Linked DNA regions of Homo sapiens: region 1 is linked to region 2. Evidence: fine-mapped expression QTL. Tissue or cell type: whole blood. Region 2 holds a variant in brackets; the other region holds the start of a gene. All regions are shown on one strand. Distances are between the middles of the regions.

Evidence for each region. PIP is the estimated chance that this variant, and not a neighbour inherited with it, causes the effect.
Region 1: SPTB starts here. The variant in region 2 is fine-mapped to the expression of SPTB in whole blood (TOPMed, PIP 0.97).

The regions. Positions count from the first base shown.
Region 1 is chr14:64,878,621-64,881,300 of GRCh38, forward strand. SPTB (spectrin beta, erythrocytic) reads right to left here and starts at 1,287. Exons shown (of 36, transcript NM_001355436.2): 1 at 1,172-1,287. LOC105370534 (a long non-coding RNA gene) reads right to left here. Exons shown (of 3, transcript XR_943942.3): 3 at 2,261-2,680. RefSeq lists silencers at 1,398-1,567, 1,618-1,757, 1,828-1,907.
Region 2 is chr14:64,766,536-64,769,215 of GRCh38, forward strand. It overlaps SPTB (spectrin beta, erythrocytic), which reads right to left. Exons shown (of 36, transcript NM_001355436.2): 29 at 2,499-2,583; 30 at 1,128-1,324; 31 at 768-817; 32 at 191-266. Among named protein-coding and RNA genes, the nearest start is that of MIR7855, 18 kb to the right of the region's middle. RefSeq lists an enhancer at 1-750. The variant G/A (reference allele first, on the strand shown) is at 1,332.

The DNA of each region.
Region 1 (2,680 bases), 110 kb after region 2:
ATTAGGGAGCCGCCTGAATCTCTTCCCTTAGAAACTAAAATACGGATCGTGACTACCTCCAGGCAGGGGTTTTGCATGACTGCCTCCTACCTGGAGGTGACAGCCTAGTCTCTCCCCACAGAAATTCTCAGTACAAAAAGGCTGTCACTATATCCCCCCACCCCACCCCCCAATCTGATGCATCTAAAATTTAGATGTACAAAAAACAGTGGCTTCTTTTCATTTTCCTTACTCCTGGCTGGCGCCTCTAATTGCTCACTGAAAACAGTGGTTTGGATATTAATAGGCTGTAACTCAAGGCCCTACCTGAAGCTCGTTGTCAGGGAAACAGCACTCCAGCCCCGCAGCTGCTTCCCCAGCCTGGGAAGTACGGATGAGTTGGTGGGAGTTGGGGATTGTTTTACAGCTTCTGTTATTTCTCCCACTTTCTGCTATTTCTCAAGACCAAGTTAGAGGAAGAGGGGAAACTGGAGAGGAGGGTGAGGGTAGAGTAGCCCGGAGAAGCTTAGAGGAAGAGAGGAACTCTTTGGGAGAGGAAGACTAGGGGTCCTTGAAGTATGGCTTGGGGCACTAGGATCTTTCCTCCCTCGGTCTACACGGGGTCACTCTCTGGGTGGCTCCCAGCACCCGGAGGCCCGGCCCCCTCTGCTGCCCTCACCTGTCCCTCCTGCCTGGGCGCTGGGTGGCCCGAGGAGAGCGCAGCCAAGTTCCCCAGAAGAGGGATATGAGCGGCCACAAGGCTGAGAAGCCGGACAAAAAAAGGCAGAGAGCAGCGCTGCGGTCGGACGGGCTAGAGGCGCAATCCCCTTCGCTCCCAGGCCGGGGTCCTGGAGAAGGCGGACGAGAACACGCACCCCCGTCACCCTCTCCCTGCGCCCCGGGGTGACGGACTCTCCGGGATCCCGCTCTCCAAAGCTAGCACCAAGTGCCTCGGACGCCCGCGCGCGTTCCCGCGTCCCGGGATGATCTTTGCCGCAGCTGCCGGGCTTCCCGGGCCCCGCACCCCTCCCACCCCACGCCCGACAACCGGGGCTGGACTCCCACCCGGTCCTCTGGGCCCTGCGCGTCAGGCGCCCCCTGGGCCCAGCGCTCCTTTGAGCTGGCGCCGCGCGTCCCAGCCTTGCGCACCCGCACCCAGCTCCCTTGGCCGCCGGGCCCTCCTGGGACTCACCTGCCCTGGGACTGAAGCGGGGGCCACCCCGAGCCCGGGGGTGGCGGCGGCGGCGGCGCAGGGGGAGGAGGGCAGCGCGGGGCTCCTGGCACAGCGGCCGCCGGGCGCCTGGTGCTGCCGAGCCGCGGACCCGCCCAGAGATATAAATAACATTATCTGAGGAGGGACATTCCTGCCGGGGGACATCGCTGCTGCCGGGACCAGATAGTCCCGCGGCGGGGGCGGGGAGGCGGGGCCGCAGCCTCCCGCAGCGCCAAGCCCAGCCCCCGCCTTCCCCACCCACTCACGCACCTGCCAATCAGCCTCCGCGCCTGGGGGCACCTGCCGGGCCTCAGCCCGGCTCCTGGAACCCGCCTCTGCCTCCCCGCCCGCCGCTGAGCCTGGGGCGCCTCCATCGTCGTTCATTGCCCCTAACCCCGCGCCACCCCGAGCCCCCTGAGGCGGGAAGGGGGTTGGACTCTAGCTCGGGCCTAATTCGTGCGCCCGGAGAGGCAAGCCTGGTGGCGAAAATGAGCCCTCCAGCCTTTCCCGCCCTGCATCCCCACTGCACACAGTTCAGTTTTTAAAATATATGAAAAGACATTTAGGCCATAGGGTGGGCGCGGCGGGTACCCGGGAGGTGAACCCCCGCCGTGGCGGGTTTGGGAGGGACAGATTGTTCCCGGGGGCTGGTGCATTAGAAAGCGCGCTCCCGGGCGGGCTTCTCTCGGCTGGCGGTGGGAGGGCAGGGGGCGGGCACTGGGCCCGAGGGCCCCACCCCCAGCCCGAGCTCAGTGTCGCTGTTTCTGCCCGAAAACCTAGTGTAATCAGGACGAACCAGGCAAAGCTGGCGGCGCGCAGCCTGCAGTCCCAAGGAGCTCGCACATTGTAGGGACTGTAATCAACAGGCAGGCTGCCACACCTGCCCACTGGCACCTCCTGGCCGGCCCGGGTCTCCGGGCGAGTGGGGGTGCCTCACTACAAGCCTGGATGAGGCGCGGCGCAGCAGGCCAGAGGAAATACTAGAACCGATGGTGCCAAAAAGGCATCTCCGAGTTGCCCCCGGAGAGAAACTCAATAGAACACCGGCAGCTTGCAAGGCAGTACATTTTCTTGACTTTCTAACGATCAAGGTCATTGTTCAGTAAGGTTTACGTGTACGCCTTGAGGTAGCTTTCATCTCTTTTCTCCACCTGCGGTGCCTGGGATGATTTCTCACCAGCTATCAACGCAGGTAATCTCAGGTATTATGGAAATGGCCGTGGAGATTAAAAGCGCATAGATGCAGAAGAAGTTTTAACTTTTACTGATGCTGCCTGGTGTTCTTAACAAGGGAACAGTCTTACTCCTGAGTTATTTGCTTGGGATTATAATTGTGCTGTTTTCCAGAATTCACCCAGGAAAGGGGTGTTTGCCAGATGTTCGAGTTTAGTTTATATATTGAACATATGCAAAGATACTTCACTTCCTGCTGCAGTCCCACTTCTTGAGGGTGGGTATTTAGACACTGAGATGTGCTGAGTGGGACAA
Region 2 (2,680 bases):
ACTCTCATGAAGAACACCTCAGTGAGGACGTAGCCTGCTCTGCTGGGAGGTGGCTGCAGGGATGTGGGGAGGATGGAGGGCGGGGCTGCGCCAGCTCATCTCGCCTCCACCTGGGCTGAGCCTAGTAGGGGTGAGAGGGCTCTGGCTGCAGTGACTCCCAGGAACTAGACAAACGAGACCAGAGACTGACCGGGGACGTTCTCTCGGTGGCCGCATGGTGGGAAACTGGAGCCTCCCCTGCTGTCTCGCCTTCCTCCTCTTGAGGCCTAAGGAAGACACAGTCTCTCTTTAGAAACAAGCACCCCTCTGAGGCCAGTGCCTCCTGCGAGGCCTGGCTTTTCACCTGCGCCCACAGGGAGGAGCACCAAATAGCTCCCCCTCCAGTCAGCCGGCAGCCTGGATGGTGCTTGGCAAGGAGCCGCCCAGCGACTTCTTCGGAAAAGCCAAGGCAGATTCTTCAGAAGGGAGCCAGGTTCCAGGCAGAACGGCCTGTGGGGCCCCGTGTTCAGGTGGCTCCGAGGTGGGGCCTCGCCTGGCAGCCACTGCTCCCAGCCCCCTCCTCCCGCACCAGGCCTTCAGCCCGCCTGTGACTGGGGAAGCAAAAGGTCCTCTGCGCTCATGCTCAGGCACTCTGGGCCTTCCTGACGAGGGTGCCCAGTGTGAGAAGTCAAATGCAACTGGTCCCAATGTCAGGTTTCTGATGAAAGGCACCCCCTACTCCCACTTGGCAGAGCATTCAGCTCCCTGGACACACGGCCACCACTCACCCAGTCTCCTCTGCGGGTCTCTCTGCAATCTGGCGTTCTTTCAGCTCAAGCTAGAGGAGGAGAAGGCCCAGGGGTCAGAGCAGCCACAGAGGCGAGTTGTGTTCTCAGACGATCTCCCTCTGGATGCGGCCCTGCACCCCCACATGCCCTGACACTTGTTCCTTCTAGAGTCAGCCCCTTCTGTCCTTTGCATTCGGAGGTCAGTACTTCCTGCCACTTGTCTTTCCTTCCCATTGTCGCTGCTGGCCAAGCCTGTCACACCATTCTAAGTACCTAACAACTGGCCTGGAGTCCTTACATGAGACCCCTGGGGGCACAGTTGCCACCCTCCTGAGCCTCCCAGCACTGTTCCCTGCTCACCGTGGTGGGCTTCTCCAGGGCAGCAAAGCGCTCTGCCCAGCTGGCCGTGGACTTCTCAAAAGCCTCATGCCTCTTGATGAGCTTCTCCACACTGTCCACTGTGTGTCCAAAGTCCCCGCTGGCCAGGTAGGGCTCCTGGGCAATCAGCCACGCCTCAGCCACAGAGGCATCCCTCGAGAACTGGCACACCTCCAGCACTGCCAG[G/A]GGGAACAGGACACAGACCCCCCACAAGGCCCAGGGCCTGTTAGCACCCAATCGTTCACTCCTGATTGGGGCCAGTGGTCAGGCAGGTGGCCTGAATAGGTGTCCCTAAACCACATGGATACGCTTGCTGCCTGCAGCCACCCCATTCCACACTGGGCCCCTAACCGATCTTCACAATAGTTATATTTTTTTAGAGGGAGGGCTTCAATCTGTCACCCAGGCTGGAGTGCAGTGATGTGATTATGGCTCATGGCAGCCTCAGCCTCCTGGGTTCAAGTGATCCTCCCATCTCAGCCTACCAAGTGGCTGGGACTATAGGTGTGCACCACCATGCCCAGCTAATTTTTTCTGTCGTTGTAGATAGGATCTCCCTATGTTGCCCAGGCTGGTCTCAAACTCTTGAGCTCAAGCAATCCTCCTGCCTTGGCCTCCCAAAGTGCTGGGATTATAGATGTTACCCACCATGCCTGGCCCAATAGTTATATTTTTTAAGCTATATTTTTCACTAATTAGAACTCTATTTTGAAAACAAAATGTATTTTAGATGTCTCTGAAAAGGAGTCTTCTGTGTTGAACATTCTTCCCAGCCCTTGGCTGTCTCACATGATGCTGGATGAGTGGCCAGGGGCACCAGTTGGCCCTTCTTGGCTCACAGCTCCTCCCTGAATGGTGGCTTTTCCCCACCTCTCATCAGCACCCAGCTGAAGGACGAAGAGCCGGTTCTGTGCTTGACATTCCTCATGAGGAATGTCTGGGATTCCTCAGAGCCTTACCCCAACCCCTCTCCCAGACCCCCAACTCCTCCCCCGGACCCTCAACCCCTCCCCCAGGCCCCCAGCCCCTCCCCCGGGCCCCCAACTCCTCCCCCAGGCCATAGCTCTGCAGGCATACCAGCCCGGGCATGAGGCTGGGGACAAGTGCGGCAGAGGATGGGCAGGGAGTGGGGGCACGCTGGCTAGTTAGAGTGAGGCTTCCAGCAGCGTGTCTACTCTGGCCTTCTGCCTGGACCGCTGAGGCCCCTGGCCCCAGAGCTTTGCTGAAGAGCAGTGCTGTGGGGGGCTCCTCTCTAGGCAGTAGTGAAAATCCACCCATTGTGGCACCTCCCCATTCCCCTACTCCTGCGGGGGTACTCCTGCCCCTGGGCCCTGGCTCCAGGGCTGTACTCACACATGCGGAGCCGCTCCCAGCGGGCTTCCCACTTCTCATTCATCTCTTTCCTCCTGGACATCACCTGCTGCAGTTTCTCGCGGATCTATGGGGAGGAAAGGGAGAAAAGCTCAGGCTTGGCTCACCCTTCACCATCTGAGGCAGTGCGCAGATGGGTCCTGCAAAGAATGCCAGGTTTGGTC